2 separate regions of the Homo sapiens genome follow, and region 2 is linked to region 1. A link means that fine-mapping ties the variant in region 1 to the expression of a gene that starts in the linked region. Tissue or cell type: whole blood. Region 1 holds a variant in brackets; the other region holds the start of a gene. All regions are shown on one strand. Distances are between the middles of the regions.

The links. PIP is the estimated chance that this variant, and not a neighbour inherited with it, causes the effect.
Region 2: it holds the start of ACSL5, and the variant in region 1 is fine-mapped to the expression of ACSL5 in whole blood (INTERVAL, PIP 0.91).

Annotation. Positions count from the first base shown.
Region 1 is chr10:112,404,337-112,412,442 of GRCh38, reverse strand. It overlaps ACSL5 (acyl-CoA synthetase long chain family member 5), which reads right to left. Exons shown (of 21, transcript NM_203379.2): 4 at 7,868-7,932; 5 at 7,637-7,738; 6 at 3,922-4,021; 7 at 2,758-2,936; 8 at 1,948-1,980; 9 at 1,808-1,859; 10 at 914-987; 11 at 464-541. Among named protein-coding and RNA genes, the nearest start is that of ACSL5, 34 kb to the right of the region's middle. The variant G/TG (reference allele first, on the strand shown) is at 4,145.
Region 2 is chr10:112,369,584-112,377,689 of GRCh38, reverse strand. It overlaps ACSL5 (acyl-CoA synthetase long chain family member 5), which reads right to left and starts at 3,574. Exons shown (of 21, transcript NM_203379.2): 1 at 3,421-3,574. RefSeq lists enhancers at 841-1,341, 1,364-1,583, 1,342-1,842, 1,724-1,873.

The DNA of each region.
Region 1 (8,106 bases):
CACTCAGGTGTGCAAAAACCGGCGCGGGGGACATCTCACACCTTATGTAGATCAAATGCTCCTTCCCTGATCCTCTGTAGGGAACTTCCTTTTCTCTAATCCTAGATCTTTTCAAAAATTCTAACCAAAATAAAATTTAAAAAGAAGACAATGTCTTGTGTCAGCTCAGAATTAAGGGCAGATAGATAGTAAGCTCCTAGCTGTGATGTCACTAGACTCACACACCCCCATGAAGGCAGGAGCAAGTACTATCCTCCCTGGACACATGCAGACTTAGCAGAGGAAGACTCTGCAGGAAATGAGGGGCCATGCCATGATTAGGGCTCCCATGAGCCAACTCCTTGCCTGCACCTCTCACACCGGAGAAAGAACAGTAAATACTGTGTAGCTGCCTTTGGAATAAACATGTGATAGCAAGTCAGGACCCCCTTGCCACATACTGCTAGGAACACAGAACACTCACCTGTACAATCCTCTCAAACATATGAGCCAGAGGGAGGTAGGATATGGCCACATCATCAGGAGTGGGCTCATAAGCATGCTATGTAGGCCAGGGAAGTAAGAGGAGGCAACATGAGATTAATGCCAACTTTCAATTCCAATGGAGATTTTAAAACTACCTCCTCCCAGGACTACCACAGACAGCTGTATAGGCGGTACACTGTGTAGATCTGAGATGCCTTGAACTGCATATAGTGTAGAAATTTGCAGTGATCCTAAAAGACCAACGCTTGAAAATGTACAGTCCTCTAAACAAAGAACACGCTGGTGTTTGTCCACACTCCAGCCTTTAACGTGTGTGTGTGTGTGTGTGTATGTGTGTGTGTGTGTCTGCCTGCTCTAACCTCAAAAATAAAAATCTTATGACAGATTCACATTTTAATGAGAGCCTCTTTTTCAACTGACCACTGACCTCCACACATTTGAGAAAGGCAGCAGCATTTGAAACAATATTTTGATGGGTTATCATGGCTCCTTTGGGGTCACCTGTAGGAAATAAGAGGTGGAGAGAAAGATACTTTATGTAGCTAATAGGTAGCCTTTGGCCTTGAAAGAAACTAGATTCAATTGGTTTTATTCCAGAAGGCCAAGAGCATTTCCTGTCACTGTGTCTTTTTGTGGATGGTATATGCCTCTGTTTAGGAATAATTAATGCCCCCGGAGATTCTACTGCTGAATGCATCGTTGGCCTTCTACTACTATGCAGAGCACAGCCATGATTTCAGATAGAAGCACAGCTGCAAAGAAAAATTCAAGTTAACCCTCCTTGTCCCTCTGCCCCACATCTCATGCTGTTTATATGTTTGGAATTCCAGATCTACCAATATTATATAGTGATATGGTTATAAACCTTATAAACTGGGCATACTAGAAAGAATATAACTGTAGACCATGATGGACCACATTAAAAACTATTAAGCATTCTAACAGATGGGTGGATGTAGGGTGGGGTTGAAGCCCTTTATGGAGAACTATCACTGAGTTATCTTGATTGAATGAAACCATTCCAGCGGTGTCAAATCAAGAGAGTGGTGGGTTGGTGGGGGCGGGGGAAAGGACTTTCTGACATCATCTTTAAGACCCCTGAAATCTATTGAATATAAACACCTCCCAATATATTAAATAAAGTGTATTTACTTATGTTTATGTTTTTCCATTTGGGAATTCACACTTAGAAGCCTTAGGCTGTGAGCCCCTAAGTATAGGGCTCTTTAGAGGGAGTATTTACCAGCCTACCAGTGGCCAAGAATTGAAGCCATGTTCTTGGCTGACCAGGGGTCTAAGGTTCAGTTTCATGGGCACAGACCTGTGGTCCCACTGGTGAAGCAGATGACGCTCAGGTCTTCTGGGCTAGGAGGCTGGAGGAGGAAGCACAAGGGCTTATTCCACCATGAACTTTGAGAGTTGACTATGGCAAGGCTCAAATTCAGGCAGAAGAAAACTTACCACAGGTTTTCTGAAGTGCTCTTTGCCTAGGTTCTATGTGAATGGAAAACCAAGAAAGAAAGACATTAGTTGAGATGGACAGACTGTGATAAATGTGGCCCTCTCCCTCCCTTTCCCGTGAGAACATCTCTATGGGAATATAAGCAAAATTCCAACCTGGATCAGGACCAGAAGCCAACATTCAGGAACAATGGAAGCCCCAGGGAAGAGCATAAGATTTCTCTAGAAAATCATCTACCTATAGAGGGTAGATTGCATGTTCAAACTTCCCATTGTACTCTTAAGTTTCAGTCATCTAGGGCCCTAACTAAATCTTTTTTGAAAGAAATGAATAGCTAACATTTTCAGAGCTTATTACATATCCATCACTGTCCTGAGAAATCTACATATATGAATTAAGCTAACTCTTTACAAGACCTCTGTGAGGTAGTGATTATTTTTATCACCATTTTACGGACCGAGAGAAGGGAGATGAGATTGCCCAAGGTTGCCTAACAGATGTGGAGCTGGCATGCGAACCCAAGCAGCCTGGCTCCAGGAGCCACATCCTTTAACTATTACTAAACCCCTATTTATATATTATCCACTTAGAAGTCCATACAGCTGGCCACAGAACTTTGTCCTCTCCTGGCATGAGTTTCAAAGTTGTCTTGTGGAAATTATTCTCAGAGCTTCACAGCATGAGTCTAATCTACTCCTCACGTGCCACCCCTGGAGAACAAGAACACTGTCCTCTTGGGAAGGTATCTTGCAAGTTGCCCAAGGTGTTGGACAAGCATTGGAGCTGCAAGCTAAATTTCAGATCCATACCTCAGCATCATATAGGGATAAGATCTCAATTCCACTCTTCTCCCCTCTTTGCTTCAGGTCATCATCAAAGGGGTCCATAAGGATGATCACCTTCAGGCTCGGGGTGAAGCCTTTCTCTACATTCCCTATCAGCACCAATGCCTTTTGGGGTGTGTCACAGATCACCATGGCGATATCAGCTGGAAGCCAAAATAGAACCAGAGGTCATTCCCTCTCTCTGCTAAGTACCTGATTGCCTTGCAAGAAGGAAGAGGTTTTAAAAGTTTTCAAAGCTAACAGGTGTCCAAAGGAGATTACACCTGCAAATCAGATTTATAATGTACAACCTGAAACATTCCATTGATGATAAATGAACTTAACTGAAACAGAAGCACATGTTCTTGAACTGTGCCAGCAGATTTTACAGTTTCTAGAGGAACCACAGAATTCCTTCTGCTTAAGAAGTCATTCAGATAACCTAAACAGGTTACTGAGGTGTGGTTCTATCACTGTTTTATTTGAGGAGGATAGTAGGGAATAGAAGAAAAAGAAGGGGGCAAATAGGATTTTTAGCTGACAAGTATTTTACAATTCTAAATTTTAGCATTTGCTTTGATGCATGTTTAAAGTTTCAAATGATGTTTACTGTGCAAATGGACTTACTCACTTAATCTACTAGTCCCATGACAGAAGGTAACATGTTGGATATGTGAAAGGGCTGTTACTTGCCCATCAAATTTGGACTTGTTTCTCTAACAACGACAATTATTTTCTGCAGACTCACCATGGACATTGGTACATGCTGGTTAACTGTATTGACTTGGATTTACAAAGGTAGGAAATTAAATCTGTAGCTTTACTGTGATTAAGTCAATTAAGCTCACTCTCTGGGCTTTTATCTAGTGTGTTCAGAGTGAGTAGTCTTGTCTCTATATCATCATACCATGTCACCCTGACGCATGTCATTGAAACTTCTTTCTGTGTGTATCTCTGCTTCATGGGCTTTTTGTAGCTTTCCTGAAAATTATATCCTAAGTACTACAAAACTAGAAAGACTTGAACATTTTCCGACCACAGCATTTCAAGTTTGCTTAAACAAACAAACAAATAAACAAAAAAGCAGAAATTGAAGAAATACTCAGCATTGAGAAAGAATCAAGTTGTAATGTAACAGCAAAATTTTACCCTTGTTGACAATATGTACGATGGCTTCTGGTCCCAAGGTGTCATACAGAGGTACAGCTACCATAGAGTACGTGTAACAAGCCAATTCGGAGATGATCCACTGTACAGAGAGAAGTTCAAGTAAGGACTGGAGGGCACACTGAAGAGTACCAGTTCAGTCATTCAGCCAACAAATGCTGTCTGGTTTTTTGTCTTGTTTTGTTTTGCTTTTTTTTTTTTTTTT[G/TG]AGACAGTGCCTCACTCTGCTGCCCAGGCTGGAGTGCAGTGGTGTGATCATAGCTCACTGCAGCCTCAACCTTCCAGGATCAAGCAATCCTCCCACCTCAGCCTCCTGAGTAGCTGGAACTACAGGCACACATCACTATGTCAAGCTAATTTTTGTATTTTTTGTAGAGACGGGATTTCACCATGTTTCCCATTCTGGCATAAAACTCCTAGGCTCAACCTATCTGCCTACCTGGGCCTCCCAAAGTGCTGGGATTACTTATTTGTTGACTTTTATGTAAAAAAAAAAATCACTGTGGGGCCATAGGGACAGTTGTAAATACTGCTATAAAGTACAATTAAATAAGGGAGATAAGAAAGGCACAGGGACAACTGCAATACAAAGGTAGACCAGAATACAAAGGCAGAGTGTGATAAGTTCCATCCGTAAGAGGTATGGAAGGCATTAGGAGCCTTAGGGTGTCAGAGATCACTTTCAAGGGTGAGGAAAGCTATTTGGGACTGCTTGTGGGAAACTGATGAAAACTGGGCAGGGCTTTAGAGGACTAGTAGGATTTGGTTATGGAGGTAGAGGTAGATTAAAAGAAGGAAGTGAATGAACAAAGAATAGTGATATGGTTTGGCTGTGTCCCCATCCAGATCTCATCTTGAATTGTAGTTCCCATAATCCCCATGTGTCGTGGGAGGAACCCAGTGGGAGGTAATTGAATCATGGGGGTGGTTACCCTCATACTGTTTGACGTGGTTTAGCTGCGTACCCATTCAAATCTCAACTTGAGGCCGGGTGCAGTGGTTCATGCCTGTAATCCCAGCACTTTGGGAGGCTGAGATGGGAAGATCACGAGGTCAAGAGATTGAGACCATCCTGGCCAACATGGTGAAATCCTGTCTCTACTAAAAATACAAAAATTAGCTGGGCGTGGTGGCATGTGCCTGTAATCCCAGCTACTCGGGAGGCTGAGGCAGAAGAATTGCTTGAACCCGGGAGGTGGAGGTTGCAGTGAGCTGAGATGGCACCACTGTACTCCAGCCTGGCAACAGAGTGAAACTCCGTCTCACAAAAAATAAATAAATAAATAAATAAAATAAAATCTCAACTTGAATTGTATCTCCCAGAATTCCCATGTGTTGTGGGAGGGACCCAGGGGGAGGTAATTCAATCATGGGTGCTGGTCTTTCCTGTGCTATTCTCATGATAGTAAATAAGTCCCATGAGATCTGATGGGTTTACCAGGGGTTTCCACTTTTTGCTTCTTCCTCATTTTCTCTTGCTGCCACGATGTAAGAAGTGCCTTTTGCCTCCTACCATGATTCTGAGGCCTCACCAGCCATGTGGAACTGTAAGTCCAATTAAACCTCCTCTTCTTCCAGGTCTTAGGTATGTCTTTATCAGCAGCATAAAAACAGACTAATACATTGTTCTCGTGACAGTGAGTGAGTTCTCATGTGATCTGATTTCATAAGGGGCTTTCCACCCCCTTTGCTCTCATTCTTTTCTTTCCTGCCACCATGTGAAGAAGGACATGTTTGCTTTCCCTTCCGCCATGATTGTAAGTTTCTTGAGGCCTCCCCAGCACTGCAGAACTGTGAGTCAATTAAACCTCTTTCCTTTATAAATTACCCAGTCTCAGGTATTTCTTCGTAACAGTGTGATAACGAACTAATACAGACAGCATAACATCATTGTGTGGATACACATTAGCAAGCTTGAAGACTACAGGAAATAAAACTGGAAAGGTAGGTAGGAATCTGCTAGTGATGGGCCTTAAATATCAATGTAGATGTTATGGACTGAATCCTGTCTCCCTGTCACCCCTCCTCCGGCCCAACCCAAATTCATGTTGAAACCCTAATCCCCAATGTGACAGTATATGAGATAGGGCTTTTAAATAAGTAATTAAGGTTAAATGAAGTTTTAAGTGTGGGGTCCTAATCCCTTCCTTCTATGAAGAAGAACGGTCATGAGGGATACATGTGCACAGAGAAAAGGCCGTGTGAAGACAAAATGAAAAAGTGGCTGTCTACAAGTCAAGGAGAGAGGCCTCGGGAGAAGCTAAACCTGCTGACACTCTGACCTTGGATTCCTAGACTCCAGAACTGTGAGAAAATAAATTTCTGTTGTTTAAGCCACATGGTCTGTGTATTAGATTATGGCAGTTCTAGCAGACTAATATACAGTTGCTCCTTGAACACATGGGTTTGAACTGTAAGGGTCTGCTTGTGGATTTTTTTTTTCAATAAAAGTTACATTGAGGGTGCCTATATTTCCTGCCTCTCTTTCCATCTCCTCTACCTCTTCCACCTCTGCCAGGTCTGAGACAGCAAGACCAACCTCTCTTCTCCCTCCTCCTCAACCCACTCAAGGTAAAGATGACTCAGATGAAGACCTTTATAATGATCCACTTCCACCTAATGAATAGTATATACATTTTCTCTTCCTTATCATTTTCTTAATGACATTTTTGTTTCTCTAGCTTACTATATTGTAAGAAAGCAGTATACAATACATATAACATACAAAATATGTGTTAATCAACTACCTATATTATCATAAAGGAAGGCTATTAGTAGTTAAGTTTTGGGGGGGTTATCTGTGGATTTTTTTACTGAATAGGCAGTGGTCCTAACCCCCATGTTGTTCAAGGATTAACTGTATCAGATTAGGTGTTAAGTTCCTAAACTAGAGTCAAGGGAACCTTTTTCTATTGAGGCTGACTGTGACAAGAATGGAGTATGCAGATTCACCTAAAAATGTTGGTGAATATTTTTATATTTGTATTAGCATTAGAAATGGGACTTACAGTTTGTGAACTTTCAACAAGATCCACATAGAACTTAACTCCCCCAAAACTTAACTACTAATGGCTTCTGTCGACTGGAAGCCTTGCTGATAACACAGACAGTTAACACAGATTTTGTATGTTATATGTATCATATGCTGCATTTCTAGGGAGCGTTTGAAGCATAAAAAGACTTCCTCTGGGGATAATGTGCCTAATGACTTAACCAAAACTTGGAGATAAGCTTGATTCTGTCATCTTACTGTCTAAAATCTGCTTCCAACTCACTGTGGAAAGATAGCTATGGCCAGACTCAGTAGCAATGAATGGCTGAATTTACTAGTTCAATTACAAATTGCAAGTTTCAGTTCTAATACTAATACATACTTTCCACAATATCTTCAAGATCTTATTTGGCGGTCCCTCCTAGCTTCCTTATTTTCCTCATGTAACAATCAGACTGACTTCAAAAAACACATGATAGGCTGAGAAAAAAGAGAAGTCCAAACACCTAGGTGAGAGTGCCAGACACTTAACCAGAAATTAAATAGGTTCTGAGTGGTAACTCTTTCAAGTAGAATAAGCATTAGAAAATTTTAACAATAGCTTTGGTAAGGCATTAACAAGTGTTGGAATGCTGGACGGGGAATAGCATTTGAAGTTTTTAAACTTAACCCTGACTCATTTCCTTTAGTTAACTTCAACATAGTTACCTCTGGCCTATTCTGAGCAAAGATGCCGACAAACTGGTCTGGTGATGATTTATAACCTTTATGCAAGAGACAGGAACCCAGGTACTCTGCTCTATCAGACACCTACAAAAAAGAGAGATGGGGTGAGAGAGAGAGAGAAGAGGTCAAGACCAAAAACTGACCAATATCGTATCCTGTAGTTCAGAATACTATGTTAGAAAGAATCTGTCTAAAAACATGGACTCAACTTACCTGTTTGTAAGATAGCCATCTGTAGGGCTGGTTTGGTTTTCTATATCCCAAGCAGGGCCCATTGTCTAAAAACATAATATTAAAAGAAAATCAACTCCAGTTGCAAATTCTCTGGACCAAGGAAGCTAAAAGGAGATTAAGAAGGGGCAAGACACAAAGGGTAAGTCCAACAAGGATTTGAGCTTCTATTATATGTCCAGGAAATTCAAAGTCAGAAAGCACTGAGTCCTCAAAAATGA
Region 2 (8,106 bases), 35 kb after region 1:
TAACCTTGAATACTGATCAATCGGAGGGGACTACCACAGAGTGACTCCATATCAGAATATGAAGGGAGAAATAAACAAAACCAATTACTCCTTTTTTAAAAGAAAACTAAGTCAGTTTTCAATGTTTTTTTATTTGTTTGTTTGTGTGTTGTTTTTGAGCCAGAGTCTTGCTCTGTCATCCAAACTGGAGTGCAGTGGTGCCATCTCGGCTCACTGCAACCTCCGCCTCCTAGGTTCAAGCAATTGTCCTGCCTCCTGAGTTGCTGGGATTACAGGCGTACGCCACCACGCCAAGCTAATTTTTGTATTTTCAGTAGAGATGGGGTTTCGCCATGTTGGCCAGGCTGGTTTCTAACTCCTGACTTCAGGTGATCCACCCACCTCAGACTCCCAGAGTTCTGGGATTACAGGTGTGAGTCACTGCGCCCGGCCTTAACTTTATTTTTTAAGACTCTGCCTCTGATATAGAATACTAATCACCTACACATTGGAGCTATAGATTCAATTCTACCTTTCAGACCACCAAAAAAAGGCTGATATCTCAGAAGGTACCAAGCCCCGGTGGTAGAGTCCCTTTCCAGTGCTTATTCCCTGAGGGTCTCCGGTGGTAGAGTCCCTTTCCAGTGCTTATTCCCTGAGGGTCTCCGGTGGTAGAGTCCCTTTCCAGTGCTTATTCCCTGAGGGTCTCCAGTGGTAGAGTCCCTTTCCAGTGCTTACTCCCTGAGGGTCTTTGAGATTCACCTTAGGACCCTCAGGGAGTGGGCATTGGGAAGGAAGTACTTAGGAATTAAGCAGCACCTGAGACTTAACCTGTGGCCTTACTTCCTAAAATACACTCAGCTCCATTCATCTGTCTCTCCCACCCCATTGGTCTCATTCATCAGTCTTACCCAACATAAAATTGAGGGCAAACCCCCAGCCCACCTCAGGGGAGCTATGCTGGATGCTCAGACCCACAAAAAGAGGTCTCTGTTTTGGTTCACCTTCCCCAAGAGAGTCGAGAGAAGGAAAGTGAGCCCCATGCATGCCCCACATCCTTCCTTCCCGTTGCTCCTCCTGACACAGGGTCTGAAGGCATGACCGAGACCAGGAGGGAGACAGCATGATGTGCCCGTGGAACTCAGCCGGCCCTTGATTCTAAGTCGCTTAAAGAAAGTCGGGGGTCAGGATGCCCCCTTGGCCTCTGTCACACCCTCACAAGACCCCCTTGCTGAATAACACCCCCTCGATGGTCCCCTTACCCTGCGAGGGGGCCGCATCTCTCAGTGCTTCTAGTGAATGGGGGCTTCCCGGCTCTGAGTTCTTCCTGCCACACGAGTCCCTGTCCTTCTTCCCTCGCTCGTGGTTCCTCCAGAGACAGGGTGGCTTCAGAGCGTCCATGCAGGCAGAAGGCCGGCCCAGAGTGTCCCCAGTTCTGCCCTGCTCTGAGCTGTCCCGAGTCAGGCCATGTCAGGCTTTCTAACGTGCTCGGGGACTTCACTTCCTGGTTTTAATTTTTTTTTTCACAACTGAAAGTGGAAGTGTTCTGACCAGGAGGGGAGAAGCTGCCAAAGCTACCCTGGCTCCGTGTCAAAGCCTTTCACCTCAGCCCCTAAGGGCCGACACAAAAGCCAGCTTGCCTCAACACAGTTGACCCTGCCCTCCTGTGGCCTATCATCTTTCAACTAAGATGAAAACAAACAAACTAAAATGACTTGAGGTGCCCCCTCAGATCAGAAGCCTCACAGAGGCAGAGGTGACGCTGTTCCCTGCTGGATTCGGAGGACAGGAAAGTCTGGCTAGAGGGTACCTCAGCCCTCAGACCCACACAAACACCTTCTACCCCGCCTCTCTCCAGTCGCCAGAGCTGCCTGCCTTGGTCTCTGAAGAAGTTCTGGCAAAGCCAAGAAAATAAGCAAGTCAGGAACGACAGGGCTGTGAGTCGTTCAATTGGCATGGTTTCTTTCCCTCTGATACAGTCACACCTCAAAACTTAACTTAAAAATCGATTCTTTCGCCTTGGTCACCCCCAGTATTACCAGGACCTGTATTAGTCTCATTTTTGATCCGCCTAAGGCTGTGGCTACAGGGGGGCCCTGGAGCTACCATTCTCAGATTAGGAAGCCGAAATGACAAATTTTCCTGCCCCTTCCCCACCTCACAGATACCTCAGAATGAAGCAGCACTTTCTCCAGCCTCGATCCCCCACGAAGGCTCACAGGAAGTTCAGCATGATCCTGGCTCTTTGCTGGAGCTAGATTAGGGTTTGTTCTTTCTACAGAGCAGTTCTTAAAAGCTTCCTACTAAGGAAGCCAGGGTGAGCTGTGCCACAGTCTCAGAGAACACAAGAGCTGAGCCCTTGGCCTCTGGGGAGCCGCCTTTGGACATGGAAGAAAGATGAAGGGCTGGGAGACGAAGTGGGGCCTGTGGCATTCCATCCTCTGGCTCATCTCACGGCTGGAGGAGCACTTGTCATTTGCTTAGTTTCAGGAACTCAGCTCCCCAAGAGGCAACTTCCTCTAGAGGAGAGCAGAGGATGGCAGAGTGGGTGTCGAATCTCAGCCACACTAATACCTCTGAGCCCTTCACCGGGTGCTGTCTTCCTTCACCAAAGGGCTCAGGGCCAGGGGAAGATGAGGTTTTATTTCTTTTTTTTTTATTGACCTCCTCCAGTAAAAATGCTCAAGTTCAGGAAGGTTGAGTCATTCTAAAGGCCCATCAGAGTTGTATTCCTATCAATCCTCTGTGCACATGAGTGACACCCTCAGGATTTCAGGGGGTAACTGAAAGCTTTGGCAACCCACAACAATTCTGCATTATTGGGCAGGCTGTGGAAACTGACCAATCAAGTCTCAAATTCTAGCCACACCACCTTGGAGCTATGTAGCTTAGGCCATGCTGTTTAACAGCCTGGAGACGCACTATGCCTCTGTGAAATGGGAAGGATACCACCTGCTTTATAGGATGAGATACACCAATGAAGTAACATACATAATCTACCCAGAACAGTCCCCAGCACCTAATCGAATATCTGCTGATTCCCTTCCTCTCTGTCTGCCAAATGGGACTCTCTGCCCTCAGCAGCTGACGCACGATCCTTCTAACTACACTGAGACAGAAATTTCTTAATGGAAGATGAAGGAGACCCACATTCTGGCTTGGTGTGCTTTAGTACACTTACCAAAATCAGTGTTCCCTTCCAATTCCATCCCCTGCTAGCATTTGGATAGCTCATATATCTCCACCCCTTTTCCAACTGATTTTTTTCTTTGCCTCCCACACAAGTCAGCTGAGATTACTATTCAACTAAATGTAATTTCATGTTATTAAAGAGCCTTAGGTTGAGCATAACAAATCCCACTTTCTTTCCCCACACCAATCCCCTCCCTACTATCTCACAGATATATTCAATATAGTGCAGGTAGTATCATTGCAGCTTACCTTGGAAGAAGACTCTCCCTTCCTGGGTCCAGGAAGTGCTCCCCTCACAGCTGGCTGTATTGATTCAGCACCACATTCAGGCACTTCTACTCTTTCCACAGCTCCTAGGACTGACTGGGACACACCCGAAGCTACTGTGTACTGTCCTGAGAGTGGCCAACACACTCCCCTGGAACCTTTGAATCTGTCACAACAGAAGTTCAAAGGTAGAAGTTACCTGTTCAAACACTTGTAGTAACCTCTGACAGTAAGAAAAGCAGTGTTGGGCAAAAGATTAAAACAAGAGATTGTTATGCAATGGGCTTAAGCGGGAAAAAAAAAAAAGACGGCCCTTAGTTCAGAAAGCTAACGTTTACCAAGAGAAACCTTCGATAAAGCTCTACCTCAGGGGAAGGAGAAGGGGTAGACAGGGCTTTGCATCTGCTTTGGGGGCACAATCCTTGAGACTGTGATAGGAAGAGGAAGGTCTAGATTACTAGAAGAAAAAGGGCTCCTTGAGATCAGAGTGAGAGAAAAATGAGAAGCCACTTTAATTGGCTCAAGCTATAACTTTAGGATTCAGACTAAGCAGAGGTGTGCATTTGCAGACCAGCTATCTTCTAGAAGGGACCACTGCCCCCTTCAGAATTAGAACGTCTCCAAGACAACCAAATGAGCCAAATCAGTCTAGAGTCTAGGCTGAGAGACAAGCCTAGGACGGTTGTTTTTAGGATTCGGAATCACGAACACAGTCTGCAGCACACATAGTTTAGCAAGGCGCTAGAATAGGAAGCATTGCTTCCTGGCTAACACGGTGAAACCCCGTCTCTACTGAATACACAAAAAATTAGCCGGGCGTGGTGGTGGGCCCCTGTAGTCCCAGCTACTTGGGAGGCTGAGGCAGGAGAATGGTGTGAACCCGGGAGGTGGAGCTTGCAGTGAGCCAAGATCGCGCCACTGCACTCCAGCCTGGGCGACACAGCGAGACTCTGTCTCAAAAAAAAAAAAAAAAAAAGAAGCATTGCTACTGCGTCATGGCTCAGCCATCCTACTCTCTCCTTTTTTTTTTTTTTTTTTTTTTTTGAGACGGAGTCTCACCGCAACCTCCACTTCCTGAGTTCAAGCAATTCTCCTGCCTCAGCCTCTGGAGTGGCTGGGATTACAGGCATGCACCACAATGCCTGGCTAATTTTTTTTTTTTTTTTTGTATTTTTAGCAGAGACAGGGTTTCACCATGTTGGCCAGGCTGGTCTCGAACTCCTGACTTCAAGTGATCTGCCTGCCTCGGCCTCCCGAAGTGCTGGGATTATAGGCATGAGCCACCATGCCCAGCCTCTCTTTCCACTTTGAAGTTCTCTAGTCACCATTCTTGATTCCAAGATCATTAGGACTGCAAGGCATCATTACTAAACAAAAACAGTGGGTAGAAATGAAAGAAACCCTGGAGATGATGTGCAAACTTACTGTATAGGTGAGGCCAGTGAGGCCTTTTCAGGTGAAAGAAGGCTTCTGGAATCACACAACCAGTCGGTCAAGACAGCACCTGACTCAGAGTCATGAGAACCCCTGCAGTGCCTTGGCCCCTATGCTGCCCCATTGATCTGTGTATGTTTAGCTACCAGAATGAAGCCGCGGACCCTCGCAGTGAGTGTTACAGTTCTTAAAGGCGGTGTGTCTAGAGTTTGTTCCTTCTGATGTTCAGATGTGTTCAGAGTTTCTTCCTTCTGGTGGGTTTGTGGTCTTGCTGGCTCAGGAGTAAAGCTACAGACCTTTGCAGTGAGCATTACAGCTCATAAAAGCAGCGTAGACCCAAAGAGTGAGCAGTAGCAAGATTTATTGCAAAGAGCTAAAGAACAAACCTTCCACAGTGTGAAAAGAACCCCAGGTGGTTGCCACTCCGGGCTCGGACAGCCTGCTTTTATTCTTTTATCTGGCCCCACCCACATCCTACTGATTGGTCCATTTTACAGAGAGCCGATTGGTCTGTTTTACAGAGAGCTGATTGGTCCGTTTTGACAGGGTGCTGATTGGTGTGTTTACAATCCCTGAGCTAGACACAAAAGTTCGCCATGTCCCCACTAGATTAGCTAGATACAGAGTGTTGACACAAAAGTTTTCCATGTCCCCACTAGATTAGCTAGATCCAGAGTGTCGATTGGTGCATTCACAAACCCTGAGCTAGACCAGGGTGCTGAATGGTTTACAAACCTTGAGCTAGACACAGAGTGCCAATTGGTGTATTTACAATCCCTTAGCTAGACATAAAGGTTACCCAAGTCCCTACCAGAGTAGCTAGATACAGAGTGTCAATTGGTGCATTCACAAACCCTGAGCTAGACACGGGGGGCTGATTGGTGTGTTTACAAACCTTGAGCTAGATACAGAGTGCCCATTGGTGTATTTACAATCCCTTAGCTAGACATAAAGGTTCTCCAAGTCCCCACCAGAGTAGCTAGATACAGAGTGTCCATTGGTGCATTCACAAACCCTGAGCTAGACACAGGGTGCTGATTGGTGTGTTTCCAAACCTTGAGCCAAATACTGAGTGCCGATTGGTGTATTTATAATCCCTTAGCTAGACATAAAGGTTCTCCAAGTCCCCACCAGACTCAGGAGGCCAGCTGGCTTCACCCAGTCGATCCCGCACCGTGGCCACAGGTGGAGCTGGCTGCCAGTCCCACACCGTGTGCCCACACTCCTCAGCCTTTGTGTGTCTGGAATTGGTGGGTTCTTGGTCTCACTGACTTCAAGAATGAAGCTGCACACCCTGGCGGTGAGTGTTACAGTTCTTAAAGGCAGCGTGTCCGGAGTTTGTTCCTTCTGATGTTCGGATGTGTTTGGAGTTTCTTCCTTCTGGTGGGTTCGTGATCTCACTGGCTCAGGAGTGAAGCTGTGGACCTTCGCGGTGAGTGTTACAGCCCTTAAGGTGGGGCGTCTGGAGTTGTTTGTTCCTCCCGGTGGGTTCGTGGTCTTGTTGGCTTCAGGAGTGAAGCTGCAGACCTTCGTGGTGAGTGTTACAGCTCATAAAGGCAGTGTAGACCCAAAGAGTGAGCAGTAGCAAGATTTATTGCAAAGAGCGAAAGAACAAAGCTTCCACAGCATGGAAGGGAACCCCAGCAGGTTGCCACTGCTGGCTGGGGCAGCCTGCTTTTATTTCCTTATCTGGCCCCACCCACATCCTGCTGATTGGTCCATTTTACAGAGAGCTGAGTGGTCTGTTTTAACAGGGTGCTGATTGGTGTGTTTACAATCCCTGAGCTAGACACAAAGGTTCTCCACGTCCCCACTAGATTAGCTAGATACAGAGTGTGGACACAAAGGTTCTCCAAGTACCCACTAGAGTAGCTAGATACAGAGTGTCCATTGGTGCATTCACAAACCCTGAGCTAGACACAGGGTGCTGATTGGCGTGTTTACAAACCTTGAGCTAGATACACCGTGCCGATTGGTGTATTTACAATCCCTTAGCTAGACATAAAGGTTCTCCAAGTCCCCAGCAGTCAGGAGCCCAGCTGGCTTCACCCAGTGGATCCAGCACTGGGTCACAGGTGAAGCTGCCTGCCAGTCCCGCGCCATGAGCCGGCACTCCTCAGCCCTTGGGGTGGTTGATGGGACTGGGCGCAGTGGAGCAGGGGCCGGTGCTTGTCGGGGAGGCTCCGGCCACACAGGAGCCCACGGAGGGTGGGGGAGGTTCAGGCATGGCGGGCTGCAGGTCCTGAGCCCTGCCCCGCCGGGAGGCAGCTAAGGCCTGGCAAAAAATCCAGCACAGCACTGGTGGGCCGGCACTGGTGGGCCGGCACTGCTGGGGGACCCAGCACACCCTCTGCAGCCGCTGGCCGGGGTGCTAAGCCCCTCATTGCCTGGGGCCGGCAGGGCCAGCCGGCCGCTCTGAGTGCAGGGCCCGCGGAGCCCACACCCACCCGGAACTCGGGCTGGCCCGCAAGCACCATGCGCAGCCCCGGTTCCGCCCACGCCTCTCCCTCCACACCTCCCCACAAGCTGAGGGAGCGGGCTCAGGCCTCAGCCAGCCCAGGAAGGGGTTCCCACAGTGCAGCAGTGGGCTGAAGGGCCCCTCAAGTGCTGCCAAAGTGGGAGCCCAGGCAGAGGAGGTGCCCAGAGCGAGCGAGGGCTGTGAGGGCTGCCAGCATGCTGTCACCTCTCACTTGGAAGGTCGATGGGAAGGGGCAACGTGGAGCAGGGGGCGGTGCTCGTCGGGGAGGCTCTGGCTGTGCAGGAGCCCATGGCTGGTGGGGTTGGGTGGGGGAAGGCTCAAGCATGGCAGGCTGCAGGTCCCGAACCCTGCCCCACAGGGAGGCAGCAGCTAAGGCCCAGCGAGAAGTCAAGCACAGCAGCTGCTGGCCCAGGTGCTAAGCCTCTCACTGCCGGGGGCCAGCGGGGCAGGCCTGCTGGTCTGAGTGCGGGGCCTGCCGAGCCCACGCCCACCCGGAACTCTCGCTGGCCCACAAGCCCCGCGTACAGCCCCGGTTCCTGCCCGCGCCTCTCCCTCCACACCTCCCCGCAAGCTGAGGGAGCCGGCTCCAGCCTCAGCCAGCCCAGGCAGGGGCTCCCACAGTGCAGCACGGGCTGAAGGGCTCCTCAAGTGCCGCCAAAGTGGGAGCCAAGGCAGAGGAGGCGCCAAGAGCAAGCAAGGGCTGTGAGGGCTGCCAGCACGCTGTCACCTCTCACTTACTGTATTTGGTCAGGTGA